7 linked regions of the Homo sapiens genome follow. The protein of the gene in region 2 interacts with the protein of the main gene of each other region in a biochemical or structural test. Each region holds a gene or a part of one and is shown on either strand. Other genes may lie near its edges.

The links.
Region 1: the proteins of CYSLTR2 (region 2) and PTPN4 interact in a test that uses a peptide from one of them, tested with the Homo sapiens proteins (one large-scale study listed by IntAct).
Region 3: the proteins of CYSLTR2 (region 2) and PALS2 interact in a test that uses a peptide from one of them, tested with the Homo sapiens proteins (one large-scale study listed by IntAct).
Region 4: the proteins of CYSLTR2 (region 2) and PALS1 interact in a test that uses a peptide from one of them, tested with the Homo sapiens proteins (one large-scale study listed by IntAct).
Region 5: the proteins of CYSLTR2 (region 2) and PDZD8 interact in a test that uses a peptide from one of them, tested with the Homo sapiens proteins (one large-scale study listed by IntAct).
Region 6: the proteins of CYSLTR2 (region 2) and DEPTOR interact in a test that uses a peptide from one of them, tested with the Homo sapiens proteins (one large-scale study listed by IntAct).
Region 7: the proteins of CYSLTR2 (region 2) and PDLIM2 interact in a test that uses a peptide from one of them, tested with the Homo sapiens proteins (one large-scale study listed by IntAct).

Annotation. Positions count from the first base shown.
Region 1 is NC_000002.12:119,762,508-119,767,208, forward strand, and holds part of PTPN4 (tyrosine-protein phosphatase non-receptor type 4), read left to right. Parts: intron 1-4,701. UniProt on the Homo sapiens protein: Phosphatase that plays a role in immunity, learning, synaptic plasticity or cell homeostasis. Regulates neuronal cell homeostasis by protecting neurons against apoptosis.
Region 2 is NC_000013.11:48,707,927-48,712,026, forward strand, and holds the end of CYSLTR2 (cysteinyl leukotriene receptor 2), read left to right. Parts: 3' UTR 1-3,300; downstream 3,301-4,100. UniProt on the Homo sapiens protein: Receptor for cysteinyl leukotrienes. The response is mediated via a G-protein that activates a phosphatidylinositol-calcium second messenger system.
Region 3 is NC_000007.14:24,691,459-24,695,780, reverse strand, and holds the end of PALS2 (protein PALS2), read right to left. Parts: 3' UTR 1,588-4,322; downstream 1-1,587.
Region 4 is NC_000014.9:67,247,258-67,251,958, forward strand, and holds part of PALS1 (protein PALS1), read left to right. Parts: intron 1-4,701. UniProt on the Homo sapiens protein: Plays a role in tight junction biogenesis and in the establishment of cell polarity in epithelial cells.
Region 5 is NC_000010.11:117,276,262-117,279,796, reverse strand, and holds the end of PDZD8 (PDZ domain-containing protein 8), read left to right. Parts: 3' UTR 1-2,523; downstream 2,524-3,535. Other genes in the region: SLC18A2 (synaptic vesicular amine transporter), read right to left, coding at 2,531-2,635. UniProt on the Homo sapiens protein: Molecular tethering protein that connects endoplasmic reticulum and mitochondria membranes. PDZD8-dependent endoplasmic reticulum-mitochondria membrane tethering is essential for endoplasmic reticulum-mitochondria Ca(2+) transfer.
Region 6 is NC_000008.11:119,928,502-119,933,202, reverse strand, and holds part of DEPTOR (DEP domain-containing mTOR-interacting protein), read right to left. Parts: coding exon 4,625-4,701; intron 3,389-4,624; coding exon 3,265-3,388; intron 1-3,264. UniProt on the Homo sapiens protein: Negative regulator of the mTORC1 and mTORC2 complexes: inhibits the protein kinase activity of MTOR, thereby inactivating both complexes. DEPTOR inhibits mTORC1 and mTORC2 to induce autophagy.
Region 7 is NC_000008.11:22,586,512-22,591,212, reverse strand, and holds part of PDLIM2 (PDZ and LIM domain protein 2), read right to left. Parts: intron 1,916-4,701; coding exon 1,839-1,915; intron 1,618-1,838; coding exon 1,472-1,617; intron 1-1,471. UniProt on the Homo sapiens protein: Probable adapter protein located at the actin cytoskeleton that promotes cell attachment. Necessary for the migratory capacity of epithelial cells. Overexpression enhances cell adhesion to collagen and fibronectin and suppresses anchorage independent growth.

The sequences.
Region 1 (4,701 bases), on a different chromosome or scaffold from region 2:
TCATGGTTTTTAGTAAGTTGTCTTTAAGGAGCAAAGTAAGAGACTAGCAGAAAATTGCAAGGAGGTTTGTTATTGAGAGTACTTCTGCCCCCCGCTTGAGAGTTAATATGGCCACTTTTAAACAAGAAAAGTTTTCCAGAAACGTGGAAATCTTGTTTGGTGTATGTTTAGGGGCAAATGTTTTAAAGTTTTGCCTAAATTCTTAGTTAGAATGCAAAATTGATCAACTCCCTAGGAATGGTTATTGTGGCTAAATATGAATTGTTGCTCCTATGTAAAATTTAGTTATTGGTAGAAGTTTACTAACTGAGTTGAATTTTGTTGTTTTCCTGGGTTATTGCATGTTATGAAGTTTTTTATGTACTATAATCCAGATTTGTTAAATTTGCCAGTTTACTAGAATAAGCTGTGAAGCCTTGAAGTTTGGCTTAGCATTCTGAAAATCCTTTTTATTGTTTGCCAGGAAAGCACTGTAGGAAGGAGGTGTTATCTCTTCATTTAATATTTAATGAGTAGTATAGATGATGAGATAGGATATAATGTAGAAATACCGTAGAATCTTCTTTATTGATATGAAAGTACCATTGTCTAGGAACAGCATAATTTCTTATCTTTTGCATGAATGGGGAAAAAGAGGAGGGGAAATTTATTAGACTCTTTCATTTCATTAGAGATATCTTCCCTCACATTCATTCTTCATTTCATTATTCTTAAGTAGAAACTTTGGAAGAGAGATGCAAGTATTTGAATTAATTAGTAAGAACAAAATGAAAATTACATCGTATAGACTATCATGAGGAAAATATCAATTTGGGTTGGTTATTGTGTTTGTATTTTTTAACAAGGAGGTTATATAGAGTAGTAGAAAGAAAAAAGGACCCAGAGGGGAAGAGTGTTAATATTTATTGTCTGTTAAGTGTCAGATCCTGTATAAGGGGCTTTTCATGTTGTCCCACTCACCAAGTATGCTTTATGAGGTAGGTATTATTAATCCCCTGTCCTCTCCCTGCCAAATAGAAGCTAAGGGAAATGAAATAACTTGTCTAGGCTCATACTTCTAGTAAGTGGAATTCTCTAAAACTTATTCTTTAGATCGGTTCTGTCCAATTAAACTTTCTGCAATGATGGAAATATTCTTTTTTCCTTCAACTTTATTGAAGTATAATTGACAAATATCATAGAAATATTTTTTGCACTGTTAGTTATGGTAGCCATTAATCATGTGTGGCTATGGAGCACTTAAAATGTGACGAGTGTGTCTGAGAAACTCAATTTAAAATTGTATTTAATTTAAATCAATTTAAATTTATAGCCAGATGTGGCTAGTAGCTATAGTATTGGAGAGCATAGCTTTAGGTCTGACTGCTTAGAAAATCTGAGTTGTAGTATTTAATCTTCCACTGGTTTATGCATGGCATTGGGCAAGTTGTTTAGTTCTGGGCTTCAGTCTAATCTGGTGTGAAAATGAAGGGGTCGCCACTAAGAGATTATCTCCAAGGTTCCTTCTTGCCTGAAGTTCTGTGACTGTTATTAAAACATACAGTAGCATTCAATATTCACAAGCATTATGTCTGAAAGGATCCCCTCCCCAATATGCTCACCCATTACCTAAAGATTTCTGTTTAGTCAGTTTCTCTTTTTGAGAAGCGTATGTATAAAGCACACATAAAGGATAGTGGATTATTCCCCACCTCCCCAACTGTTCGGCAAAAACATTGTGTAACTCAAGGCAGTACTTTATGATGGAACAAAGTTTGAATCTTTAAAGGCCATATTTTAACATGCCACCTTCCCGTTTAAAAATATATAGGAGTTCCCCGGTGCTTATCAAATTAATCCCAAATTTACCTGCTTGACCTTGAAGACTTTCTACCAACTTCATCTCATTAACCTTGTTTCTCATTCGTGCTTAAAAAGAAAATAGTCTTGTTTTTTCCTTTGTCCTCGTTTCCATAATTTAAACATCTCTGTCTCCAATTCATGTGCCTCCTCTTTAAACCTTTTTCAAAATTCACCTGTTTCTGGAAGAATGCTGCTTAATCCACTCACAAGGATCAGTTAATGAATCCTGGTAATAAGTACCCTAAGGTTAATATATGCTTGTTTAGATATAGTTTAATATCTTCTTAAGCTTTTTTTTTTTCTTAAGTTTTTATGTTACCTACTCTGTTTCCTTAATTTTCTTAGGTTAAAAAAATTAAAATAGGAATAGCGTCTTTTGTATTGTCTTATGAATTTAGTTCATTTTTCAACAATGCTACTTTTAAAAGTTGCTAATTTTTAAAAAGGATAAATACTGTAACAACGTTTACCCTTGATCACCACCATAATAGCTATTTTTTGTTTCTTTCCAGGTAATTGTTCATATTTAAAAAATAAAGTTGTGTGGTAGAGAGAATTTTGAGAGGAATATAATGGGAACATTGTATGGTGGAGGCTGTGCAATGTAGGGGAAAGATCACAGACTTTGGAGTCAAATCTGGTGTGGAATCTAGCGTCAAAAACCTCGGGCAAACTGTCTGATTTCTGAGTCAGGAGTCAAATCTGGTGTGGAATCTAGCGTCAAAAGCCTTGGGCAAAGTGTCTCATTTCTGAGTCAGGTGGTCTTGAATTGTGGGGATTAAGATACTATATGTAAGGCATCTAGCGCTGTGCTTTAAATACAAGAGATGATCAGTCAGTGATAGTTGGTATTATTTTTTCATTTTTCTATTCCCATCTTCATGAATATTATTTATTTATTTTAGCTACCCAAAGCCACCAAGGTCAATGAATATAATTTAAGTGATTAGTTAAACATTCAGGTGATATACCATAACTGATTTAGACATTTACATTTTGTTAAGCGGTTTTTTGTTTATTTCCTCAGTTTAAAACCCTAGGACTGGGATAATGGTCAAGTGTCATGAATATTTCTGTGCCAGATCTCTCTCTTACAGAAGTACCTACAGTGGTTGTTCTTGTTTTGGGAAGAAAAAAATGCTAATTTTATAATTGTATTTCATTGTTTTAATTAATGTAATTTGAAAATTTATTTGGTGATGATGTAATGAACATTCCTTTATATGTTAAGCAAACATTTGAAATGCCCATTGTAGTGGGAGCAGTGGTATAAAGGTAAATAAGACATGATTCTTGTCCTTGAGCTCAAATTCTAGGGTGGTAACACATGTCAACAAACAATTAACAATTCATAGTGACAGTGTAATAAGATCTGGGGAAAAGAAGTGGCATTTGAATATGGTCTTGGAGGATCATTTGGAATTGATCTGGGTAGAGAGAACAGCATATAGAAAAAGTCAAAGTATGAAAGAATGTGTGGTGTGTTTGGAGAAATGTAAGTTGTCTTGTTGGATATGTCTGTCTCTGTCTGGGTGGGTGTGGTTGTCTGTTCCTGTGTGTGAATCTGTGTGTGTGTGTGTGTGTGCGCGCGCGCATGTGCGTTGATTGCAGTGGGAAATGAAGTCTTGTGAGGGTCCTTGTGTTTGGGCAATGAGTGGGATCATTTTAAGACCTTTAAAATAGAGCTTCCCAACTGGTGTGCCATGAATGGTTTACCAGTGTTTCGGAGAGCAAGATACCCTTGTTTAATGGGACCTGGGCATATCAGATCCCCCTCCCCACCCTGCCCCAGGATGGTTTCTTTTGGCTTTGAATAGCATTTGTGGCTTATCCCAACGTGCTAAGAAATTATTATTTTCTTTGTTGCCAAGTTGGGAAAAGGATTGGGAAAACCACTGTTTTAGAGACTGTAAGTATTAGAAAGTTTATGGTTCCTACTCACCCTTGGCATCCACTATGGAATCAGAAATAAATATCAAATCCTAAAGTAAGCTTAAGGTAAACTTAAGAATTCTTAAGTCACCTTCCTCTTTCTCTCTCTTTTTCCCTCCCTTTACCCGCTGCCTCCCCCATTTCACTGGTGTATGCGCATGTGCGCGCGTGTGTGTGTGTGTGTGTGTGTGTGTGTGTGTGTCTGTGTGTGTGTGTGTGTGTGTGTGTGAAATATCTCTTTGGTGCCCTTGCGTTACTGGTGCCCTAAACATGCATTTAGTCTGCCTCTTGGGAAATCAGCATTAACATTCAGGAACAATTTAGAGGTATTTAAATAAGGGATGATAAGATTAGATGCAGGTTTTGAAAGGTAACTCCTGACTTCTAGATAATGATGCAAAGTTACAAGGATAATGCAAGGATGAGGTTAGAAATGGAGCAGAGAGACCAGATGCTGTTGCAGTGGTCCAGGGGAGGGATGATAGGAACCAGAAATAGGGCAATATAGATATGAGATTAGAACTGAAAACTGAGTAGTTTCACTAGACCTGAGAGTCCATTTGGACATGGGGGGAAAGAGTTGAAGATGATGCTAGGATTTCTTCTTTGGCAGCTTCCCTTCTTTAGCAAGGGAAGGCCAGATTATTTTTATTGAGCACTTCCAGTGAGCCAGGTATTTTGCTAGACAGCGAAGTTGTCACGAGTTCTCATTTAACATTTTGAAATAATTTCAAACCTAATGAGAAATCTCAAGAAAAGTACAACAAAGAGCTCCTGAATCGCCTTAAACTAATTTTTAACATTGTACTAGCTATGTACCGTGTGTATACACAGCTCAAGATGAGCCTGGAACACCTCGTGCTTGGCTCAGTAAGGCCTTTTCCAGATGCCCCAAGTGGTCACCTTGGAATTGTGTTTAGCCCTTTC
Region 2 (4,100 bases):
ACTTTGTATTTACATCACTCCCAACAAATGTTGATTCTTAATATTTAGTTGACCATTACTTTTGTTAATAAGACCTACTTCAAAAATTTTATTCAGTGTATTTTCAGTTGTTGAGTCTTAATGAGGGATACAGGAGGAAAAATCCCTACTAGAGTCCTGTGGGCTGAAATATCAGACTGGGAAAAAATGCAAAGCACATTGGATCCTACTTTTCTTCAGATATTGAACCAGATCTCTGGCCCATCAGGCTTTCTAAATTCTTCAAAAGAGCCACAACTTCCCCAGCTTCTCCAGCTCCCCTGTCCTCTTCAATCCCTTGAGATATAGCCAACTAACGACGCTACTGGAAGCCCCAGAGCAGAAAAGAAGCACATCCTAAGATTCAGGGAAAGACTAACTGTGAAAAGGAAGGCTGTCCTATAACAAAGCAGCATCAAGTCCCAAGTAAGGACAGTGAGAGAAAAGGGGGAGAAGGATTGGAGCAAAAGAGAACTGGCAATAAGTAGGGGAAGGAAGAATTTCATTTTGCATTGGGAGAGAGGTTCTAACACACTGAAGGCAACCCTATTTCTACTGTTTCTCTCTTGCCAGGGTATTAGGAAGGACAGGAAAAGTAGGAGGAGGATCTGGGGCATTGCCCTAGGAAATGAAAGAATTGTGTATAGAATGGAAGGGGGATCATCAAGGACATGTATCTCAAATTTTCTTTGAGATGCAGGTTAGTTGACCTTGCTGCAGTTCTCCTTCCCATTAATTCATTGGGATGGAAGCCAAAAATAAAAGAGGTGCCTCTGAGGATTAGGGTTGAGCACTCAAGGGAAAGATGGAGTAGAGGGCAAATAGCAAAAGTTGTTGCACTCCTGAAATTCTATTAACATTTCCGCAGAAGATGAGTAGGGAGATGCTGCCTTCCCTTTTGAGATAGTGTAGAAAAACACTAGATAGTGTGAGAGGTTCCTTTCTGTCCACTGAAACAAGGCTAAGGATACTACCAACTACTATCACCATGACCATTGTACTGACAACAATTGAATGCAGTCTCCCTGCAGGGCAGATTATGCCAGGCACTTTACATTTGTTGATCCCATTTGACATTCACACCAAAGCTCTGAGTTCCATTTTACAGCTGAAGAAATTGAAGCTTAGAGAAATTAAGAAGCTTGTTTAAGTTTACACAGCTAGTAAGAGTTTTAAAAATCTCTGTGCAGAAGTGTTGGCTGGGTGCTCTCCCCACCACTACCCTTGTAAACTTCCAGGAAGATTGGTTGAAAGTCTGAATAAAAGCTGTCCTTTCCTACCAATTTCCTCCCCCTCCTCACTCTCACAAGAAAACCAAAAGTTTCTCTTCAGAGTTGTTGACTCATAGTACAGTAAAGGGTGGAGGTGATATGGCATTCTGAAAGTAGGGAGGGACTAAGTCAGTCATCATACTAAACAAAAATCCCAGTACCCTTTCCTTATTTAGCTACCAGAATGATGACAGACAGACTCAAACCCTGTCAAGACAGGACCCTGGAGGATCCTCCTATGGGGAAACTGCATAATCTGAAAAAAAGGCTGACAGATACAAATAGTTGAGGATCCTTCAACACAAAAGCTGCGTGTCTGCCCTATTACTCACCTGACGATGAAGCCCACAATGCAACAAATCCCTTCCACTCACAGCATTTGGTCAACCTGTCAGAGCCTCATTCTTAATTATGAAAAGTAGTCAATGAACACAATACATTTGAGGGAAAGGCCGTAACATGAAAGGCACCAACAAATAAATGTGAGAGTAGATAGAGACCTTTTGAGTATAAAAGATCCTCCAAAATAAGAGATTAAACCAAGATAGAGGAAAACACAGTAGCTGGGAAACAAGGAATCCAACGCAGGAGAAAGTGAAGAGAATTCCCAGGATGTTGGTGTGTAGCAGGCTTAGAAAGCAAGTCATTCATGTTGGAGCAGGACTCTTAAAGGACTCTAGGAGAGATGTCTCCCAGAAAAAGAAGAAATTAATTGATTCATACACATTGAGAGGGATTTAGATTTCTCTTGCAGAGATTGAGATAAACTAGTCGTAAATACATAGAAAAATAAGCAAGTAAAAACGCAATACAGTTTTTAAGTGCTAGAGGAAAAGAAACTTTTGTATTAGAGAGGAAATATAACCACAGTACACTACATGGCTCAGCTGTGAATAATATTTACATAGAGGATAATGTGAATATAATAGTCTCCCATTATCTGTGGTTTTGCTTTCTGCAGTTCAGTTACAGCCAGCCAGTCTGAAAATATTAAATGGAAAATTCCAGAAATAATTCTTAAGTTTTAAAACATGTGCTGTTTTGAGTAGCATGTTGAAATCTCGCACTATCACCCTCCACCCATGTTCTGGGCAGGGCAAAGTGGGATGGTGTGAGATTTCTCCAGTGGATCCACAATGTATATGCTACCCACCCATGAGTCACTTAGTCATCATCCAGTTGCTCAGATCAACTGTTGTGGTATAACAGTGCTTGTGTTAAAGTCACTCTTATTTTACTTACTAATGTCCCCAAAGCATAAGAGTAGTGATGCTGGCAAATAAGATACACCAAAGAGAAGCTGTAAAGTGCTTCCTCTAACAGAAAATGTGAAAGTTCTTGACTTAATAAGGAAAGAAAAAAAACACATGCTGAAGTTGCTAAGATCTACAGTAAGAACAAATCCATCTGTAAAATTGTGAAGAAGGCAAAAGAAATTTGTGCTAGTTTTGCTGTTGCACCACAAGCTGCAAAAATTATTTATTACACCCCACGGTGTGTGATAAACACTTAGTTAAGATGAAAAGGTATTAAATTTGTGGGTGGAAGACATGAACAGAAATGTGTTCCAATTGACAGCAATCGGGTTTGGTACTATTTGGGTTTGGTGCTATTCGTATTCAGGGTCTTGGAATGCAACTCCCACAGATAAGGGGGTGCTGCTGGAGTGAAATACTGTGATATAACCTTTTTTTCAGGAAATGAAGGGAGAAGATGTGTACGTGTGTGGGAGAGGTATAAGAGACCTAGGTTGCCATATTCTATCACAGAAAATGCATAATAACTAAATCTGGAAAATGATGAATAGCTGTACAACCATATTATTTAGCAATAGGAGGTAAATACAGGTAGAAGCAGAAGAAAGAATGGGCAGGGGTTACCTCTATGGAGAAGCTGGGGTGGGAGGATAGGGTGGGGACTTATTTTACGAACTGTGTAATTGCCTAACTTGTGAATATGTATTTCTGAAGTAAAATAAAAATTAAGTTAAAATTAAATTTTAAAATTCAAACTAATTCTGAGTTGTTTTTTAAAACAAAAACAAAAAAAGACAAGAAAGCCCATCAGAAATGGAAACTGAACATTGACAGAAGAAAGGAAAGCAGGAAAGGACCAGAGTTGTATTTCAGTTCTTGAGAGAAGCCCATCTAGTCCTGCCATGGGAGGCAAGTCCTTTCTTGGGGTGAGGAAAGTCACTTTCTGGGGTTAGAGAGATTTTGATATGTTACTTGGGATATTTTTAGTTGCAAGTAACAGAAAACCCTACCCCAAGTGGCTTACATAATAAAGGGATTTGATTATCTCATATAACTGAAATATACCGAGGGAAGTTGGACTTCAGGCCTTGTTCAACCAGGACATCTGTGGGCTTTCCTCCCCAGATGTTGGCTCTGCCACATGGGTGAATCCTCTCATGGAAACAAGCTGACTGCAAGCAGCCTGAGACTACACACTTCCTTATTTGTTTCTAAAGCAAACTAATGAAGAATGGATTACTCTGAATGAGGATGATGACAGTACACACCTAAAGTAGTTGAGGTGAAACCCGCTGAAATCTCATCTGGGAAAGGGGTGAAATGGGGCTTGCAGAGGCCACATATGTACTGCAAATGAGGTGGAGAGAGAGCTGCCAACCAGCTAAGCATCCATGCTGGGTGTGGCATGTAACTGAGCAGGCAGCCGGGCAGCTTTGGAGGGTGGGGGGAAATGCAGGCTCTAGGAAGAAGGGCAAAAGTTAAATTTTGAATTTCGGTTGTGAAGTCGTAGGGATTTTCAATTGTCAATGAGAAACCTTAACAACTTTCCAAGGGC
Region 3 (4,322 bases), on a different chromosome or scaffold from region 2:
GGGATAGAGAAAACAATGATTAGGGCTTCTGTTGTAGAGGCAAGTGATCAATTTATTTATTTAGGTGGGAAACACTAAATGACTTTAGGGGCTTTTTACAAAGACTGTTATCACTTAAAAGAAATTACCTGCAGAAGACTGAAGCTGGACCGCTTCCTTACACCATATACAAAAATCAACTCAGGATGGATTAAAGACTTATATGTAAAACCCAAAACTATAAAAACCCTGGAAGACAACCTTGGCAATACCATCTGGGACACAGGAACAGGTAAAGATTTCATGACAAAGACACACCAAAAGCAATGGCAACAAAAGCAAACATTGACAAGTGAGATCTAATTAAACTTAAGAGCTTCTCCACAGCAAAAGAAACTATAAACAGAGTAAACAGCCTACAGAATGGGAAAAAATATTTGCAAACTATGCATCTGACAAAAGTCTAATATCTAGCATCTATAAGGACCTTAAATTTACAAGAGAAACCCCCCCCACCCCCGCCGCCTTAAAAAGTGGGCAAAGGACATGAACAGATACTTCTCAAAAGAAGACGTGTGTGTGGCCAACAACCACATGTAGAATAGCTCAATATCGCTGATCATTAGAGGAATACAAATCAAAACCACAATGAGATACCATCTCACACCAGTCAGAATGGCTATTATTAAAAAGTCAAAAACTATCAGATGCTGGCATGGTTGTAGAGAAATGGGAACACTCATACCTTGTTGGTGGGAGTGTATATTAGTTCAACTATTGTGGAAAGCAGTACGGAGATTCCTCAAAGAGCTAAAAGCAGAACGACCATTTGACCCAGCAATCCCATTACTGGTTATATACCCAGAGGAATATAAATCTTCCTACCATAAAGACATGCATGCAAATGTTCACTGCAGCACTATTCACAATAGCAGACACAAATCAACCTAAATGCCCATCAATGACAGATTGGATAAAGAAAATATGAGATATATACATACACCATGGAATACCATGCAGCCATAAAAAAGAATGAGATCATGTCTTTTGCAGGAATATGGATGGAGATGGAGGCCATTATCCTTAACAAATTAACACAGGAACAGAAAACCAAATACTGCATGTTCTCACTTCTAAGTGGGAGCTAAATGATAGTATCTTATAAACACAAAGAAGGAAACAACAGACACTGGGGTCTACTGGAGTGGGGGGTGGGAGGAGGGGGAGGAGCAGAAGAGATAACTATTGGGTACCAGGTTCAGTATCTGGATGATGAAATAATATGTACAATAAACCCCTGTGACACGTGTTTACCTATGTAACAAAACCTTCACATGTGCCCCCAAACCTAAAAGTTAAAAAATGCAAACAGTTAAAAAAAATTATCAACGCTAATCAGATATCCTCCATTATTATCTCTAAACCTTAGTTCTACCTATAAATGAAACACTTTTTTCCAATAGTAAATATTTCTTTATATATACAAAAATATTTTACCAGGAGTATATAATCTCACAGATTAGACATTTCAATAATTTTTGTTTTGGACAGCACATGGAAATATGTGAAAAGATTTATAGGGACAGTTTCTGAAAAATCAATACTTAATTGTACCACAGGAAAATTTTATTTATACAACAGCAATAATGTTTCTTTTATACAGAAACTAATAATACAATTACCTGGAAAGCAGTAGCAATTAATTTTTCTTTTTAAACTTCTTAATCAGAAACTTTAAGCAGCTTGTTCAGCTTTGATTTTCAGATTGCTAACAAGCATTCTGCCCTCCATTTTTTTTTTTAAAGATTCTCTTCTACAGTTACTTCAAAAACTAGAGGTTTAAAAAAGCATGCGTCTTGTGTTCAAATAAAAGACTTACCAAAACGAACTGGCGTGGGGGGAAAAGGAAGAATAAAAAATTCCCACAGCAAGGTTTTCACATCAAATACTCACCATAGGCTCCAACAGAGCTCAACATAACATGGAGAAATTGCACTTGTTGCTGAATACTAGTGCTCATTCTTCTACAACAGAGTCCAACATATCACTTCTTTAAAAAAAAATCAGTGTTACTGAAGAGACAGGAGCCAGTCAGCAGTTCTTTTTAAAAGAGAATACAGAGACATAAGAAATATTTTTATTGTATTTCAAATACAGATGTAGCTGAGCTATGCCTGAAATCTGGTTCTACCTGAAAAGATGGAGGCATTTCTCATTTAGACCATGTTTACCAGGACAAGCTTTATGTCTTTAAAGCAATGTTACTTACACTACTGTCCACCTCTCCTATTTAAGAATAAGATGAAAACCACACATTTTAACTGGTAATGACTTCTGGTTTAATGTTGGTAATTTACAGCTGATGAGTTTTTACATCAGATGAGTATGCTTTTTTCCTGTTTTAGTTAATTAGGCTTCCTCCAAGCTCCTAGGCTACTTTGATAGGAGGAGAGCCAAATTTCATATATGACCTGTCATATTTATGTATGTTCCTTCCCCTGGCTTGCTGTTGGCTGAAGTACAATAAAGACATCTATTTCCAATTTTAAGACCTTTTTGGCTTCTGTGGTAGCAACACCACCTATTTCATAAGATTCAAAGACAGTTGCTTTACAAGCAGTAAATCACTCAATCTTCTGATTGGTGGCATTTACCTTAACTATAGATGTGTTCATTCCATTTACACTGGAGATTAGAAAACAGTAAGAGCCAGTAGGAGGGGAAAAAAAGGAAGAGAACTATCCCTTCTGATCGACTTTTGTATGTGGAGATAAGTCAAATTTATCACACCATTGCATTATCAGCCAATGACTGAGAAGCAATTACAAAGTAATAACTAAAGTGGATTAATATCTGGATTTTGAGGTTCACAAACTAAGACCTCACTGTGAATGTTTCTTTCTATAAAGAAATAGATGCCTTTTTAAATTAATGGTATGGGTAAAACAGTAGGGCTGCAGTGATTTCAGGTATGCAGTGATTTCAGGTATAAGGATAAAGTAGGACAGTTTTCGGGGGCAAAGATCAGAGTCTTCTGGTGTAACCGAGTACTGGATTGCTTGCTTACATTTTGTTTGATTTGTGAGTGGTCTGGTTGGCAGCAAGGATTTGCTAAGGGTTTGGATTTAGTATGGGATTATAAGATAAAAGGGACTTTCTGATTAGGACTAAGAGAGCAGAACAGACCTTCCACCAGCTGAAACTGTATCTTTGGGGCTATTTTAAAACTGGAAGAATTCCTGAAAAGTATTCACCATTCACTACATTACTTCAGAAACAGGTACACTTTAAAATAACTAAAAGAGAACAGATAAAGTAGCCTAATAAGGATTTTTCAGTTCACCATATCACAGCTACCACATCAGAGTTACAAATTACAAATCAGAATTTAAGGCGAAGACAAATATTAACTTAGCCTTACTTAACAAGTAGAATAGTAATGATAAAGGGAAATATAAATTTCATCGAAGATCACACAGTCAGAAGTCAGAATTAGGATCTTGGCCAGTACCCTGTCTTTACTTTTATCACTAGAGAATATTTTTTAAAAAGTACTGCAGTGTATTGCCAAAGTGGTGTGAACCATGCTTACTTTAGAAATGAGATATCATCATTCTTTCACTGTTTAGTATATTAAGGACTCATGTTCGAATCTCTGCATTTTTCAAAAACTATTCCAAGAACACAGAAGCTAGCATGATGAATTATGGGAAATATTTTAAAAAGAATATAAATTGCAAAACGTTAGAACAAAAATGCAATTTAAAAATAACCTTACCTTAAAAAAATTATAGAACTGTCATCTTCCTCAGGTATACAATATATGCTTGCATAAAAACTGACAAGATGCTCAATTATTAGTCAAATGTATTCTTAAATTTTGTGAGTATTCATTTGTACTATATACAATAATCCCATTATTTAAAAGAATGAATTTCTCCCAAAAATTCCAAATACATTACAGATGTTATTACATGAATTCTCACAGCAAACCTCTTGAAATAAGACAAGGGCAGGTATCATAATCTCAGCCTGAATCATATTAAAGATTCATTCAAAAGTTTAAATAAGAATTTCCAAAGGGGTTTCCATCCAGAACCCTGCCCTTTTTCCCTAAGAAAATTAAATTTATTATAATAATGACTACTTTCTGAGTTTCTCATATATTTTTCAGAAAGATTATCAGCTTCAAGGTGGAACCAGAGCGTTTTAAAACAATCTAAAAAAAGTTTCAGAATGTCAAAGAAATGGGAGTAATTAAAAATTTTAGAATGCTAGTTATAATTACATGAATGAATACATTCAGTTTTATATTCATACATTTTGGGAGAATTTTACATATT
Region 4 (4,701 bases), on a different chromosome or scaffold from region 2:
AATTATTTTAATTTTTTGGTCCTATTGTAAATGGTAATCTAAAAAAATCAGATTCCAGTTGATCACTGATGGTATATAGAAATTAATTTTTGTATATTGACTTTGTATCCTGACTTTCTGCTAAACTCCCTTATTAGCTCTAGGAGCTTTTTTATTTTAGTAATTTTTTTTGGAATTTTCTAAGTAGACAGTCGTGCTCAAAACTTTTCTTTCCTTCTAGTCTGTATGCCTTTTATTTCTTTTCCTTAACTTGCTGTATTGTCTTGGTTAGGACTTCCACTGAGATGTCGAATAGGAGAGATGAGAAGTAGCATCTTTATCTTGTTCACTTTTTTTTTTTAAGATAGGGTCTCACTCTATCCCCAGGCTAAAGTGTAGTGGCGCAGCACTGCTCACGGCAGCCTCGACTTTCTGGGCTCAGTTGATTCTCCCATCTCAGCCTCTTGAGTAGCTGGGACCTACTGCAAGTGCCACTATGCCCAGCTAATTTTTTGTATTTTTAGTAGAGACAGGGCTTCACCATGTTGCCCAGGCTGGTCTCAAATTCCTGGGCTCAAGCGATCTGCCCACCTCAGCCTCCCAAAGTGCTGGGATTACAGGCATGAGTCACAGTGCCTGGCTTCTTGCTCACTTTCTTAAAGGAAAAGTATTCAGTCTTTCACTTTTAAAAAATGATATTAGCTGTAGGTCATTTTGTGCATTCTGTTAAGGAGGTTAAGGAGGTTTTCTTCTGTTCCTAGGTTACTGAGGGTTTGTTTTTTAAATCATGAATAGATGTTGAATTTTATCATATGCCTTTTCTGCATGTATTGAGATGATTGTGTGAACTTTTTTCTTTAATCTGTTAATATGGTGAATTACACTGATTTTTCAAATGTTGAACCATATTTGCATGTTTCTGGGACTAACTCTGGGGTTATTTTAAACAAAAATCATTTTGGATTTTTAAAAACTAATATACATTAACATTTATTCTTAAAAATGAAGGAGCAATGTCACATGCCTGTAGCCCCAGCCAATTGGGAGGCTGAGGTGGGAGGGTCGCTTGAGCCCAGGAGTTTGAGTCCAGCTGAGCAACATAACAAGATCTCTTTTCTTAAAAAAAAAAGGAAACCAAATATAAGATTTTGTGAACTAAAATACTTAATGAAGTCAGTAGAGTCAAGGTATTCATTAACAGTTACCTACCTACATTTTACATTTTAGTAGGACTTAAATTTTCTTGATTATGATATAACATTATAAAAATTAAAACATTTGGCTTTCTGTCTCATATAATTTTATAGTTTCTTCTTCAGTTAATAGTCTCAAACACCCTCAAAGACGTTGAAATTTTGAGGCCTCCAGGGTTCTTGGCATTTTGCTTCTTTAAGGCAGGGGTCAACAACTTTCGGTAAGTATTTTAGCTTCGTGGGCCATATTGTCTCTGTTGCAAGTACTCAGTTCTGTTGTTAGAGTGGCAGAGGTAGCCAAACAAATGAGCATGACTTTTCCAATAAAACTTTACTTATAAAAATAAGGTGTGCCTGATTTGACCTCTGGACTTAGTTTACATACCAACATTTTTATTTTATTTTTTTGAGATAGAGATGGGGTCTCACTGTGTTGCTCAGGCTGGTCTCGAACTCCATGACCCAAGTGATCCTCCCAAGTTGGCCTCCTAAAGTGCTGGGATTACAGGCATGAGCCACCACGCCTGGCCTACATACCAATTTTTTTTTTTGAGACCAAGTCTCACTCTGTCCCCCAGGCTGGAGTGCAATGGCATGATCTCAGCTCACTGCAACCTCTGCCTCCCGGGTTCAAGTTATTTTCCCTCCTCAGCCTCCCGAGTAGCTGGGATTACAGGCACCCGCCATCATGCCTGGCTAATTTTTGTATTTTTGTGGAGATGGGGCTTCACCATATTGGCCAGGCTGGTCTTGAACTCCTGACCTCAGGTGATTTGCACGTCTCGGCCTCCCAAAGTGCTGGGATTACAGGCGTGGGCCACCATGCTTGGCCTCATACCAATGTTTTAAGGCAAAAAATCAGCAGGAGAAATGACAGTAATTGTAGTAATGTAGTAAAAGGAAGCTTGGGGTATTTATTTCATGCTGTAATTCTAGGCCAAGCCTCACTTTTCTCACCTATGACATGTAGCCACCTTGAAAGATGATTGAAAAATTCAAGCTGAGATATGGAAAGCACCTAGCAAAATATCTGACACATAGCAGATACTTAATAAATATTCACTTATTCACTTTTTGTTTCAAGACTGCACAGTGCTTTGTCACAAACCAACAGATGTGAAATAATTAAGGAGAGTCAGGTTTTTACAGTTTGTAGTATATCTAATAAGTTCAAATATTAGAAATTTTAATTATGTGTCTATAGTTATCTTTTGAGTTATGCTTTTTTGATATAAATCATAATTGGCTTCACAATTTGAGAAACTTCACACAAAAAGTTGAGGATTTTGTGTGAAAACATTATATTTTGAGAGTTTTACATTGTCACAGAAAAGGTTTGAGAATGTAACTTAAAATACATTATTTTGTTTTGATGTAAGAAGTAGGCAATCTGTATTTTGCTTGTGTGTTTTAGAAGTGCCTTTAAGACTGCATTCGTTTAACGTGATTGCTTCCTATGAATGTAGTGAGCTAGGTGCTCTGCTAGGACTTGGTTGTACTTAGAGTATCCATATTTAGATACTCATTTTTGTGTTATGTTTGAAATGTAAGTAACGCTTCGGAAAGTCTTTTTTTCTGAGTTTCTATCAAGATAAAGCTGTTCTATTTTGTTTTTTATGAAGCTGGTTGAGATTCACTAGAGCGATTTTATGGCACACAAATGGGTCACATCCTACAACTTGAAAACCATTGATGTAGATAGACGAAAGTAACCCTTCTCCAAGAGGCTGTGTTCATAATTTCATTTAAAATTCAGCCACCCACTCTTCCTTCCTCCAGGAACGTTCCATACCCTCCTACTGGCAATAAGTTTTAGTTCTTAAAATTTTAGTAAAGTATGCATTAACAATTTATTCTTTTTTGTAACTCATCTGTAAATTATCGAGAGCTGTGACTACTGTTTGATGTTCATTTATGCTCAGAAGTACTAGACACTCAAATATTTACTGACCAAAAAAATCTGGAAGAAAATAAGTTATGTGTTAAACAGTGGTTCTTCTGTCTTAGTATTGGAAATCACATTGCCTCACATTGAAAACTGTATAAACTCCAGTTTATGTGTACTGGACATGCAGATTTAACTGTCTAATATTAAACAAAAAATTCTAGTTAAACAGATTGTTTTGTGATTCTGATAGTCATCTGGGCCCTTCCTCTGAAACACACACACTGTTCATACAATATGCAGGGATTCATGGAAATAAAGTCATGAACCCCAGATACAGGTCTCTGATCCAGGTGATTCATCGACTGTATAAATGACCTGCAAATGTTTTTCACAATAATGATTTGCATAAGGGTAATCAGTACATACTTAGAGTTAACGAAAATAAATTTCATAGTTTTTGTAGGCATCCTAAAGGAATCTTATCCTTCTGTTTTTTATACCTTATCCTTTTATACTTAAAATTTATAGCAAGATTGATAGTTCATTTGACCAAATCACAATACTTTCTGCTTTCCCCTCTTATCCAGAATTGTATCCCTCGCTGTGTCTCTTAATGTGTTATGCTGTATGCTGTATCCTTTGTATGTATTTCTTAAATATTAACAACTACATTTCAAGTTCTTTGTCAGCATTCTTCTTTTTACAAATGAGGAAATTGAGGCTCAGAGAGATTAAATATTTTTTCCATAGTCCTATTATAAGTGATAGAAAGGAGTTGAATTAATTTTATTTGATCCCAAAGCCCTTGGCTTTTCTGCTTTGTCTGTAATATAGCCTGCCTTAAGACTTATTTTAACATTGTCTTTTTGGTAAGATTAGAAACTTTTTGATGAAAGCCATTTTCCACTTTACCTAGTGTTTAAAAATGTACGTGAGGCTGGCGCAGTGGCTCATGCCTGAAATCCCAGTATTTTGGAGGCCGAGGCAGGAGGACCGCTTGAGCCCAGGAGTTTGAGACCAACCTGGGCAACACAGTGGGACCCTGTCTCTACAAAAAATACGAAAATTAGCTGGACTTGGTGGTGTGTGCCTGTGGTCCCAGCTACTCAGGAGGCTAAAGTGAGAGGATTTCTTGAGTGTGGGAGGTTGAGGCTGCAGTGAACCATGATGGCACCATTGCACTTCAGCCTGGTCAACAGCAACAGAACGAGAACCTGTCTCAAAAAAAAAGTAGTTGAATTAAAGTGAAGAACTTTGAGCCTGTAAATTGTAAATAAGCTCCTTAAGGGTAGGATAGTGGGTTGTATCTTTTTGTCTTAGTATGTCAGCCCTTAATATGGCTGTGATACAATAAGAAATATATATTTGGTCTTTGTCCCTGACAGCTGACCTAGAGCTTCTAAATCCCTTGGAATTTTCTTAAGCATAGAGAGTCTTTTGTTTGAATGAGGGTGATAAGAGCATCTTTTGTTTCAGTGAGTCAACTCTTGGCAGGCCCCTATAATAGCTTCAGGTTAGGGGCTGGTTGCCAGAAAGACCAAGGCATGGGGCCCCACCTTCAACCTCTGGGAAGGCAAAGAGGGGCTAGAGATAGCCAGTCACCAATGGCCAGTAATTTAATCATGCCCATCTAATGAAACT
Region 5 (3,535 bases), on a different chromosome or scaffold from region 2:
TTCAAAATGTATCAGATTTCAACGGTTTTACAAACTCCCCCGGGATTAAGTCAAATGGGTGGATATTACAGCTGTTTTCATCAGATATGGTTATTTGTTGACAACCATCAGGACAACAATGTTTATAGATGGAAGGATAACTTCCTGGTTTTTTTCCACATTGAATGTGGCTAGTTACATATCTCAATTTAAAATAAATTGTGGAAAGCCAAAAAAGTATGGTCAAGCTAACCTGGGGTGGCTTTTACCTGATGCCTACAAGCACAGAAAAATAGTTTTTAATTAAATATCCACAGTCAAAATGATACCTTATGTATTTTATTCCAACAACATTTGGTTTATAAAGGAATACAAACAGGCACAAAACATGGTTCAGAAGATTTATTAAGTAAACTTGCTAAAATATGGACAGATACACTTAGCAGTCAAACAGTTGAATATTCATTGCTACCTCATTAAAGTTTTTGTATCTGTATTACCAGGTCCAAACATAAAAACCACCTCTGTTCAAAAAATAAATGTTCAGAGAGCTGTATGTTCTTTGTTCTGGTATGTACATTTTAAAAAAACACCTCTTTCCAGTCTTGCTAACCAAGAATATTAGTCATATAAAAGAACTTAGAATTTTTTTCCCCAAGTACAAGCTATCTTTTGCTCCAAAACAGTTCTGAAGGTTTTATTTATATTTTATCTTATCCCGAGGGACCAACAGCAGGCATACCTTTGCCAGGCCTTCTTGCAGAAAGACACAGAGCCGTAAAGGCAAAAATAAAATTGCAATAAAGTATATGGTATTGGGGGCAGGGAGAACCAGAAACCCTCAAAGAGAACCAATTTGTAGCACGTTCTTTTTTAAGGCTCTACCCCTGTAGAAGTAAGAAACTAGCCTGCCTTTTTAGCCATATGAGAGTTTCCTCCAGAGCCATCTTCCAAAGTGGCAGACTTGGCCAAGTTGCCCAATGCCAAATAAGTGAGTTGGAAGTTCGTTTGCTTCAAACACACTGCACTTAGAAACCAGACTTGAAATAATCGAAGCCCCACAGAAAAGCTTCATGAAACGAAGTGTTACTTTCCTAGAGAATAAGAAAGTCACAAGATTGAGGAGTCTGTTCTAAAGTTCTTTGCTCCTTGATGTCGAAGTTAACACAAACACAATCTTAGCTTAACGAAACTAAGTAATTTTTGTTTATGATTATAGAACTGCAGGATTCACAAGTAGTATTAGAGACATTCCACACTGCACACTCCAGTCATATCTCTTAACAAAATGACATAAATTGACAATGTTCACTAACAGTATTTGCTGTTACACTGAAAAGGCACATCAATGTTGTCATGCTTAGAAAAATACACAACACTGCACACTGGATGATATAGTTAGCACATACATTTTTAGATGTTCCATTTTTCTTTTCTGCCTGATCACTATTATTTTTACTTCTTAATATATGATTCAAGACATAATTTCATTCTTCATTTTCATTTAAAATTTGTCTTCACATTGATGTGAACAACTTTCAGGAGTCTAAAAAATAGTAGTTTCAGACAACCTAAAATAAATATATTCCTAGAAAACACTTGGATGACCTGCAAACAGATCAAAGATATAGTCAGATATTAAAGTCAGAGCAGCTGTTTTCAGCTTCTTGTTTCCTTTTCTAAAACTTGAAGTAGATGGCGATTAACCTTATCATGTTTAAACAACCTTGACAGTATAAGGTACATGTACCCTCAATTTTCTTCATCCAGTAAGACAAGTATGCATCTTAAAGGGAAAGCTTTTAGTTCATAACAATATGTTTGGTTGCTTTTCTCTGCTTTCGGAACATTTACTGTTTTTCCTTTATTGGCTTTAGTGTTTGCTGCCAACCAGATAACATGTTAACATATAATTTACAACTCTCTCTAGGTAGGTGATTACATAGAAAACTAATGCCAGCTAAGATTTATGGATTCAAAAGATAACTGACACAAGTTCTTGTCCTCTACACTTGAGAGAACTAGCTGTTTAACGCATAAATATATTGATAGTAACTACAAGTTAAATAACATTCAGTGTCACTATATAACATGCTGTCTTACTTGATTCTGTTTTTCAGACTTCATTCTAGTTTCTCTTTGTTGGAAGAGTCTCAGAGATAATGTGTGCTTTAATTTTAAACACTCATTACCAATATGATTTTTGCCCAAATGTTTGTTAATGTAAGTTAAAAAATTATATTTGGTTTGGATTCAAATATTTATAGATTTACACAATACCTATTTCATCAAAATATATTGTATGATATTTAATAAAATTAAATACATAAAATAAAGTTTCAACACTATTTATACAAACCCCTAGAAAAGCTTCTTTTTCTTTATAAGGCTGTTGGCAATCGACCATAACCATGGAAAGGAAATAATAACCTTTGGTTTTACTCTTTCACCAGGGATGGATGGTATGACTAAGACAGTTCTGGATGAGTTGTGTCACTGGAAACACTGTTTTATACAATTAAACACTTTGATGATTTTTGAGGATCTCATCTCAGTCACTTTCAGATTCTTCATCTTCACCTATCGGATATGACTGGATATTATTCTGAGTGTACATTTTTGTTTTAATAGGGCAGTTGTGATCCATGAGAATAGCCTAAAAGAGAGCAAAGTGCAAGTATATTAACTTCTTGTTTCATAAAGATAAGATGGTTTTAACCTACTGTTTTTAAGGATTATTAGTTTGAAAACTATGTAGTATTACTTGCTATTAACCAGTCATTTGGAGCAATCGCCAGACGCCTGACCTAAAAGACCTGTAGTTCTACACTCTAAAAATTCCAGGCAATTGGAGACAGAAGTGGTCTCTGCAGTATTTTCATTATACCTGTCAGGGGCCATAAGTCCACTCTGGGAACTTATACTCTATGAAGCAAGGGACAGGCAGGTTAGGTTTGTTATACTTAGAATCTTGGAATTGGGGTATGGGGATCCTGGAGGTCACCCAGTCCAACTTCTGTTTACAGACGTCATTGTAGCAACACACCTTGAAAGGATGTGCTCTCTCCTTAATGAGAGAAGCCCTCACATGTGAGAAATGTACCTAAGTCTGGACTACAACCCGTTTCCATTGTTTGCATTCATGAATCTGGTTCTGGTATCTTTTTCTTTCTTTCTTTCTTTCTTTTTTTTTTTTTTTTTTTTGAGATGAAGTCTTGCTTCGTCACCCAGGTTGGAGTGCGGTGTTGTGATCTTGACTCACTGCAACCTCTACCTCCTGGGTTCAAGCAACCCTCCCACCTCAGCCTCCCAAGTAGCTGATATTACAGGTGTGCACCACCACTCGCAGCTACTTTTTTTGTATTTCTAGTAGAGATGGGGTTTCACCATGTTGGCCAGGCTGGTCTCAAACTCCTGACTTCAAGTGATCCCCCCTCCTCAGCCTCCCAAAGTGCTGTGACTATAGACACGAGCCACTGCACCCAGCCAGTTCTGATATCTTCACAGGCTGCCCTTACAATCTTTTGTTGTTGTTTTGAGACAGAATGTCACTCAT
Region 6 (4,701 bases), on a different chromosome or scaffold from region 2:
CACCTTCACAATTAACTGGAAGCCACAGGAGTCAGTGATTTAGGGAAAGGGGTGAGAGCGGCATGAGTCCTCTAGGCAGAGGGAACAGCACATGCAGAAGTATATCAGATTGCCACTTCCCCACTCCCTCCTCTCCAACGGCCTCCCATTACATTTAAAATCACCAGTTCTTACTGTGGTTTTAAGGGCCTTATTATGAACTGGCCCTGTCTCATCTCCTGCTACTCTCCTCTTTACTTCTGCCCTCTGGACACTCTGGTCTCATTACTGCCCTTAAATATGTCCAGCACATTCCCATCTCAAAGCCTTTATCCTTACCGTTCCCTTTGCCTGGGATGTTCTTCCACCAGATATCTGCAAGGCTTCCTTTATTCAAATGTTGTCTCTTCAAAAACGTCTTCCCCGATGCCCCTATTTAAAGTACCCCACCACCCTCAGTAAGTCTATTTTTCTTTCTTGCACCGACGACACCTGTATTATACTCTGTCACATCTTCATGTGTCTGTGCCTTTAATGTCTGCCTCTTCAACTGAAGTGCAAGCTCATGAAGGCAGGGGCTTTGCTACAGGCATTTCTGGTGTCTTTAGCTGTGCCTAGCATGTGGAAAGGGCTCAATCTATATTTGTTGAATAATTAATGCATTAATGCATCTCCTGAAGGGAAAGAAGATGCTCAGAGATACACAGTGCTGTGTGACTGGCCCATAGGATGGAAGGGAGATCCAACAGAACATGAGGCTGGAGTAAGTCTGCTTTCTAGAAGATGTGAGCAACTTTAACTCTTCTTACTGTCTTGCCATCATAACTATCCCATTAAGCAATAACAGTTCTCTGCCAGACATTTTCAATTATAGCTGATCCCTGCCCCACAGTGTGGTTATGCAGATCCCAAGAGATAAGCTGTAGCTAGAGAAGAGTGTTATAGGTGCAGTAGCTCATGGCTGTAGTCCCAGTGCTTTGAGAGGCCAAGGCAAGAGGATCACTTGAGGACCAGAGTTTGATATCAGCCTGAACAACATAATGAGATCCTGTCTCTACAAAAAGTTAAAAAAAAAATAGCTGGACATGGTAGCATAAGTCTGTACTCCCAGCTACTTGGGAGGCTGAGGCAGGAGGATCACTTGAGCCCAGAAATTGAAGGTTACAGTGAGCTATGATAATGCCACTGCACTCCAGCCTGGGAGACAGAGCAAGCTCCTGTCTTTATAAAATAATAATAATAATAATAATAATAATAATAATAATCTTTTTTAATTAAAAAAAAAGGAAAAGCGTTTACAGAATCCACTGGCCTTCATCCTTGGAGATGACATGCATGTTTTGGCCAACATAGAATCATTGTTTGAAAGGAACATCATTGTAATTGAAATACCTAACACCTGCTAGAATTTTACAAAAGGAACTAAGAAATTAAAAGAAAGTAGCAACAAAACAAATGCACATGTTCAAGTAAACAAATGGAGGTTCTGATGGATCCCTTCCATTCAAATTCATGTGAGTCAGAAAGATGAGAGAGTTTCTCCATTTCAGTATAGAAAGCAAGTGATAGTAGACTGAGTACAAATTAGGACATCAAATGGTGATCATTCCACCTCAAGAAACGGAGACAAGAACTGGGACAGAGCGCATAACACAGGAAGGACACAGTCGAGGGTGGCCGTCAGTACTGTGCTCGTATTTGGAATGGCTATCATCTGTGAGGTCTTACTACACACCAGAGACCCTGAGCTAAATACTTAAGCACTTGACACAGCTATCGTTTAACTCCCACAACAGCACTAGGAGGTAGGTTCTATTGCTGCTGTCATGTCACTAATGAGGACACTGAGCTTTACAAAGGTAAGGTGACAGGGCTACACTTCAAACTCTGTCTGGCTTTTAACCATCATGCCAATTAATCTGACCACTCAGACACCCACCCAGACCCTTACCCCCAACCACTGTACAACAGGCTCTTTTATGTGACAAATATGTTTTGTTTTTTTTTAGTTTTGAGATGATGTCTCACTCTGTCACCCAGGTTGGAGTGCAGTAACGTGATCCCGGCTCACTGCAGCCTCTGCCTCCTGGTTTCAAGCGATTCTCGTACCCAGCCTACCAAGTAGCTGGGATGACAGGCACTCACCACCATGGTGGGCTAATTTTTGTATTTTTAGTGGAGACGGGCTTTCACCATGTTGGCCAGGCTGGTTTCCAACCCCTGACCTCAAGTGATCCACCCACCTCGGCCTCCCAAAGTGCTAGGATTACAGGCATAAGCCACCGTGCCTGGCCGATAAATACGTATTTTTCAATTCCCTCAAGTCTTGTAAGGCAGCCAGGGTTACAAAGCACGTGCCATTGCTTCTGCACCCCTTTTTCTAATGGTTGCCCTGGAAAACTAAATGAGGAAGGCAGAATGGTAAAGAGGCCACAGAAGTAGCAGATCAACCCAGAGATGGCCACTCAGAAGATTCGAGACCCACCAACCAAAAACTCCTGTGCTACACTATACTTATCTCTTGAAAGGGCTGAAACTTGTTCCTCATAGACATCCAGCTATCTGAAGTTCTCTCACTACTCATCTCCTGGCCTGACCAATTCCCCTGCTCTCGATGCTGCTTCTCCAGTCACTTACAAGCCTGAAACTCCAATTTACAAAACAACAGTATTTAAAAGAAAAAAGGGGGCCAAGCACGGTGGCTCACACCTGCAATGACAGCACTTTGGGAGGCCGAAGTTGGTAGATCACCTGAGGTCAGGAGTTTGAGAAAAGCCTGGCCAACATGGTGAAACCCTGTCTCTACTACAAATACATAAATTAGCCAGGTGTGGTGGCTCATGCCTGTAGTCCCAGCTACTCAGGAGGCTGAGGCACGAGAATCACTTGAACCCAGAAGACGGAGGTTGCAGTGAGCCGAGATCATGCCACTGCACTCCAGCCTGGGCAAGAGTGAGACTCAGTGCCAAAAAATAAAAAATAAAAATAAGAGAGGAAAGGGGCATCCACATCATTTGATGGTAAACAAAAATTCTGGAGCTTTGTAGAATCAACTTAAATACAGAAAATAAGATTTAAGTAAATTCTTTATTAAGAACCTTATGAAATTGACTTATTTTCTGGCAAAGAGACAGCAAATGCTTGATAGTTTTCTCATATGGAAAAGAACAGTTATGTAACCAGCCCACATAGAAAAGCCACGCTGAAATCAACATAATGAGACTGGCACAGTTCTGCTTCTTTCTATAAGTCAAGATTACAGGGGGGATTTCATGCGGAACATACTTTTCATATAGCCTCTGTCCTCTCATAAAGGCCTTCACTTCATTATCCAATGGGAAGGTGCCGTCATCCTTTCTAAAGCGGTAGAAGAGTTTGACATCCTTGAATTCCTTATGCTCATCACACACTGAAACACAATATGCACAGAGAAGCAAATGAGAAAAAAAATCGCTCTTATTTAATTACTCAAGCGAAGTATGATGCTAATTAAGAATTATTTCACTATCACATTCTTCATGCATGCAAATATGTACCATATGAGCTAATACTTGTAAAATAGTTACATAGTACTTGGTACAGAGTAAGTCCTCAGTATTTTTAGCTATTATTATCACCATCACCATCACCATAGTCATCATCATCATCATCATCATCATCATATTTAGGAAGTTCACACAATTCAATTCATCATGCAATCCACAAATTCTTCTAAAGCATATTGGGGCATGCATCAGCCTCAAAGAATGTGAAATCTAGTGAGGTAAGGAGAAATGTCAACTGTAATTGAAATATGGTGTGATAAGGCTACAGAGGTAAGGAGAGAGTGCAATGGGAGCCCAAAGGAAGAGTACCCAGTGCCCCAGGAACACAGTGACACAGCTTTTGAAAAAGAAAGCTTCCCTGAAGAGTTTTCATGTAAGTGGAGACCTGAAGAATGAATCGAAATTGGGCAAAAAATGAGGCGAAAGGGTATTCCAAGAGAACGATGGCATGTGCAAAGGTCGAGGCCAGGATGAGAGATTTCAAGAAGACATGTTGGTGAATCTTCATTGAACCCACTGAGAGTAACAGCAAAAACTTGGAAACCATGTAAATGCCCACTGAAAAATGTATAGTGGCATAATTATACATATGTATTATACAACAGCAAAAATAACAAATAAGACATATACTATCAATGTGGATGAAGCTCACAGTGTGTTGATCAAGTTGCAAAAGCATAAATATGCACTTCTATAATGATAGAAAACTTTTAAAACAATATGATGCATTCCTTAAAGATGTATATACAGACAGGTATAAAGCAGTACATAGAAATAACCCAAATGCCAGCTGGACACAGTGGCTCACGCCTGTAATCCCAGCACTTTGGGGGGCTGAGGCGGGCAGATCACCCAAAGTCAGGAGTTCGAGACCAGCCTGACCAACAGGGTGAAACCCGGTCTCTACTAAAAATACAAAAAAAAAAAAAAAAAAAGAAAGAACCCAAATGCCTCTTAGAGGCAGGAAGAAAATGCAATCAGGGAGAGGTACACTGGAGATAAAATAAAGCAAAATGTTTTCTTTCTTAAGTGGGTATGTTCATGAAAAGATCTAGTCCTTCCATTTCTCTCAAGTCACCTTGACTCGCCACCGCACTCACCATGGTGAATAATGCCCCGGTCTGCTAATTTCTGCATGAGTTTAATTGCCGTCTCTCTGTCAGAAGCCTCTTTGTGT
Region 7 (4,701 bases), on a different chromosome or scaffold from region 2:
CCTCGGTGTGGCTTTCAAAGTGCTTTTCCATGCCTTGTCACATCTGAGCTCTCAAGCCACACGAAGATGAAGCCCAGGGCTACGGGGCAGCTGTCGCCCGTCTGCAGCTAAGGACGCTGAGGCCTCCTTGGCAAAGTCACTGCTCTCTCCCTGTGCTGCCTCCTGGGACCTTCTGAGGCCTCAGGGTCAAAACAGACCAGATTTGCTCCAAACCTTCTCACCCCACCCCCTGTGCCTCTGCAAATGCCCCTTGGAGCTAAACATCAGCGTTAGAACCAGCCACCTGCCAATCTCCAGGTGTGCCCTGTCCATATGGCCTCTTACATTTGCTCCCAAAATGGAAATCTCACCTTCAACCTCACAGTTGTTCCTGGAGGCCAGTTTCCAGCCTGCATCTCTGTACTCCCCACTCCCCTGCTCCCTTTCCATTGCCACCCCAATGGGACTCAACTGAGGTCCAGGAGCCCACACCAGCCACTGGGAAGGAGAGCCTTGGAGACAGCCAGGCGGGCCAGTGCCCAGGGCCAGGGGCACCATTTCCTGGGAAACCAGCTTCTCTCCATTTTAAAATTCAAAGTCATAGATGAATTATGAAGCCTCTCTGGCCACTCTCCTACCTGTCCTGTCATCTCCCTCCCCTTCTCCCCACTGTTCTAGAGGGCATTGGTGCTGAGCACCTTAAGGACAGGGGCTGTGGGAGTAGTAACTCCCACAGCAGCGCTCACTTCCATGGGAGCTGGCCAGGCCCATCTGCCCCAATGAACGGAGCTCCCCAAGGGCAGGAGTGGGGTCATGGCCACCTATCCCCAAACTCTGCACACATCTGGTCCCTCAGATGGGCACAGTCAGTGTCTGTCACATGAATAACGGAACTCTGGCAAGCCTCCGTATGTCTTGCTCGCCTGGCATCAGTATTTAATGGCTTTCCTGGGTTAGGGCACTCCTCAGCCTGATTCCCTTCCCGAGGGCCCTCACTGCAGGGGCTTGGCCTCCACTGGCGCCCTTTCATGCTATCAGGCCCCCATTCTCTCACTCCCACACCCCAAAGCCCTCTGGCCGCCAGCCTCCACCTTCCACAGTGCTTCCTGCCACCCTCTTAATGCTGTTTAAGTCTTGATGTTTTTTCTAAGGCCAAGAGGCCAAGTCAAATCCCTCTTCCTCCAAGAAGCCCTCCCTGGAGGCCCAGCCCCAGGCCCTGCCACCGCTTTTATCACTCGAATGACACTTTCCCATCCCAGCTGGCTACTGCCCACTACTCTGTGGGAGCACGCTGGTGACCCTCCCGGACCCTCCCGGACCGTCAGCTCCTTATGGGCAGGGGCTGGGGCTTCGCGCTCTGCTCGGCTCCGTGCCTAGTCCTGGGGTGAGCACCTCACAGGCACTTAAGAACACTGGTTCACTGACCCATCCAGTCAGGGCCCGGGGTACGGAAGGGAACCTCCTTCCCCTCCCCAGCCCCCCAGACCCTCACCTCTCTCCTCAGCCTCCAGGGCTTCCTGCAAGAGCCGAAAGGAGCTGGACTGTCGGGGGGCCGCCCGTCCCTCGCGATTTTCCTGCAGCATCTTGAAGACTTCCGAGTCCTCGTCCAGGAGGAGGCTTCCCCCTTCCGAGTCCATGCTGCAGGGTGGGAGGCAGCCAGGAATGAGGGTCCCGTGCCGGAGCTTAGGCAAGCAAGGGGGTGGGGGGCAGGAGAAGAGCGTGGGGGAGGGGGAGGAATCTGGGAGGTGGAGGAGCCAACTGGGCTTGGGGGACCCCATCCCTCTCGGGGAAGCCCGTCTCCCTCCTGCCCCTCCCAGCCTTCCAAGACCCCAACCCGACCCTCCGGGGCCTGCTGGTACCTGGGCCTGGAGGAACGAGGGCCCGGGGAAGGCGGCAGCACCAGCACCGCCGAGTCGCCAGCGCGGCCGAGGCCGGCCTGTTGGGAGGAGGCAGCCGGGGAGGAGTCAGGGCCAGAGCCTTGGGCCAACACACCCAGGAGGGCCTAGCCCGGCTGTTCCCAGGCCCGACACCAGGGGGCCCCCGGCCCTCGCCGACCAGCGGACCCCTGCCCCTTCCCTTGGAGCCAAGGTGTCGGGGGCTCCCAGCCCTCGCCGACCAGCGGGCCCCCTGCCCCTTCCCTCGGAGCCAGGGCGCAGAGACTGCCAGGGTCCAGAGAGGGAGGGAGGCATGCGGGTTCTGCCGGGGACCGGGCAGCAGGAAGGCAGCAGGTGACAGCTAAGCACAGAGTCCTCTGTCACGCACGCTATTATCTGTGTGCAAAGACATTGCACACTGGGGCCTGGCTCCGATCCCACGGAACCAGCAGAGAGGAAGCACGCTGCCCTTTTGCACTGAGGAGATAGAAACATAAAGGGATGAAGCAAGGGGTCGAAGTCCCCTGGGAGTCAGGGCCGGCCAGGGCAGAGGCCCTCTTCCCAAGGAGAGCTGGTTCCTCTCCTCAGAGGCGGGAGTCTGGGCTAACCAGCCTGTCCCTACTCTGCTGGGAGGTCTGGGCCTGCCCCGTGGAGCTTTGGGGAGCCGAGCCCTCCCTGGGCCACACTCAGGCAGCAGTGCCTGTCTCCAGGTGTGCCGTGTCCATCTGGGGCTCTTAAATTTGCTCCCAACATGGAAATCTCGCCTTCAACCTCACAGTTGTTCCTGGAGGCCAGTTTCCAGCCTGCATCTCCGTACTCCCCACTCCCCTGCTCCCTTTCCGTTGCCACCCCAATGGGACTCAGCTGAGCTCCCGGAGCCCGCACCAGCCACTGGGAAGGAGAGCCTTGGAGACAGCCAGGTGGGCCGATGCCCAGGGCCAGGGGCACCATTTCCTGGGAAGCCAACTTCTCTCCATTTTAAAATTCAAAGTCATGGATGAATTATGAAGCCACATGGAAAATTGCACACATCCTTAAGCTAAAGCAAAAACTTCTGGATCTTAAGAAAACAACCCTAGACCCTCACCCCACCAGGCTGCTACCAGCAGTTGGCCTCGCATCCCTCTGCTCTCAGGGTTCTCCAGTAAAACGTTCTATAGGTAAGGAGACTGCAGGTCAGAAGGGCAAAGTAGCTGGTCCAAGCCACCTGCAGCATCAGAGGCAGGGCTGGGACTCCACACCTGGGCTCCAGGGCAACTGCCCGGGGCTGTGCGGTCACCTGAAGGACCTAGAGATAGTTTCCGCAGGAATTCACGAGCCACATCACATCTCCAGACAGACCACCATGGGCCCTGCCTAGGGCACCGGCCCGGGATCCCTTCATGAGGCAAGTCCTCATTCCCAACCAGAGGGAGAGGGGCTTTTTTCACTTGGCCTCTGCTCACCAAGGCATGTGCCTACCAGCAGGGGGAACCTGTAATTTCCAGAGGCACTATAAGGGCATCCTGAGCCTCCAGCTCTCTGCAGCCTTGGCCATGTCAGGAGGCCACAAGGACACAGCACCCCTGCCTCTGCAGCCCACAGCATTCCTCTCACACACTCCCACCAGACTGCCCAGCCCAGAAAAGGAGACCAGCTCCCCGACTGGGAGAGACAATGTCTTTCTCTCCTTCCTTTCCTCCCAGGCGGTTAGGGGTTAGCGACCCTTGCCTTCACAGAAGAGACCTTTTATCTCCAAATCCAGGAAAGCTGCTCCCCCTTCACCTGCCCATCATGAGCTTGTCTGTAGCCAACACCTCTCGAAATGTGTGCTGGGGAACGCAAGGATGTTCCTGGGGGTGGGGCAGGGCAGGGCAGGGGGTCAGGGGTAGAAATTCAGGAGAAATTCTGCTGTTCAACAAGTTTAGGATATAAAGAAAAATTAAGTGGGTTTCTTTCTCATGGGACCTCTTAGAGCCTTTAAGACTCTCAAGTATAAGCGATTTTTTTTAAAGAGATGGGGGTTTCACTATGTTGCCCAAACTGGTCTGGACTCCTGGGCTCAAGCAATCCTCCCGCCCCAGCCTCCGGAGTAGCTGGGGCTCCAGGCACATGTCACAGCACCCAGCTACACAGTGATTCTCAAAAGGCAGCTGTGGGACCCTGAGACTTGTGCACCCGTGGGACCACAGCCTCATTTGTAGACTAGAACGTCAGCTCCATAGGGTCAGAGGTGTCACTCTGTTTTTCCACGATTGCATCCCCAGAGCCCAGATGAGTGTCTGACATGAAGCAGCTGCTCGACAAATATTTGCCGAAGGAATGAGCAGAGTCATCAAGGTCAGAGAAGGGAACTCAGAGCGTCTAGTCTGACCTGAGGCCCAGGGAGAGGAAGGGGGGCTGGTCCAAGTCGTCAGGCAGAGGTGGGACCGACCCAAGTGAGTCTCCCCACACCCAGCTCTGGGCTCGTGACCCACAAGCCCCATGCCCAATTCAGCGGGTGTAGGCTGGAGCCTGGGAAGTTGCATTTCCAACAAGTTCTCAGGTGTTGCCGCTGGTTTGGGAGCCATGCCTCTGTACCTCCCACACCCTTCATTTTCCTGGACTGGGGGCAACACGATGGGGAAGCTCGGGAAGGCTTGCCCTTGAGCACGTGGGTCCTGCTGAGACCACAGCCCACCAGAGGTGTCGCGGAACAGAGCCAGGACTGACACTGACCAGCCCTCTTGAAACAAGCTCATTCCTGGCTCATCTCAGAACAAAGGTTCCCCCTAAAAAATCCCCCAGCCCCAATACATCAGCCGTCGCCCGGACCAGTGTTTCTCCATCTCCCAGCATGTCGGGCCTCCTGCTCATCCTTCCCTAAACC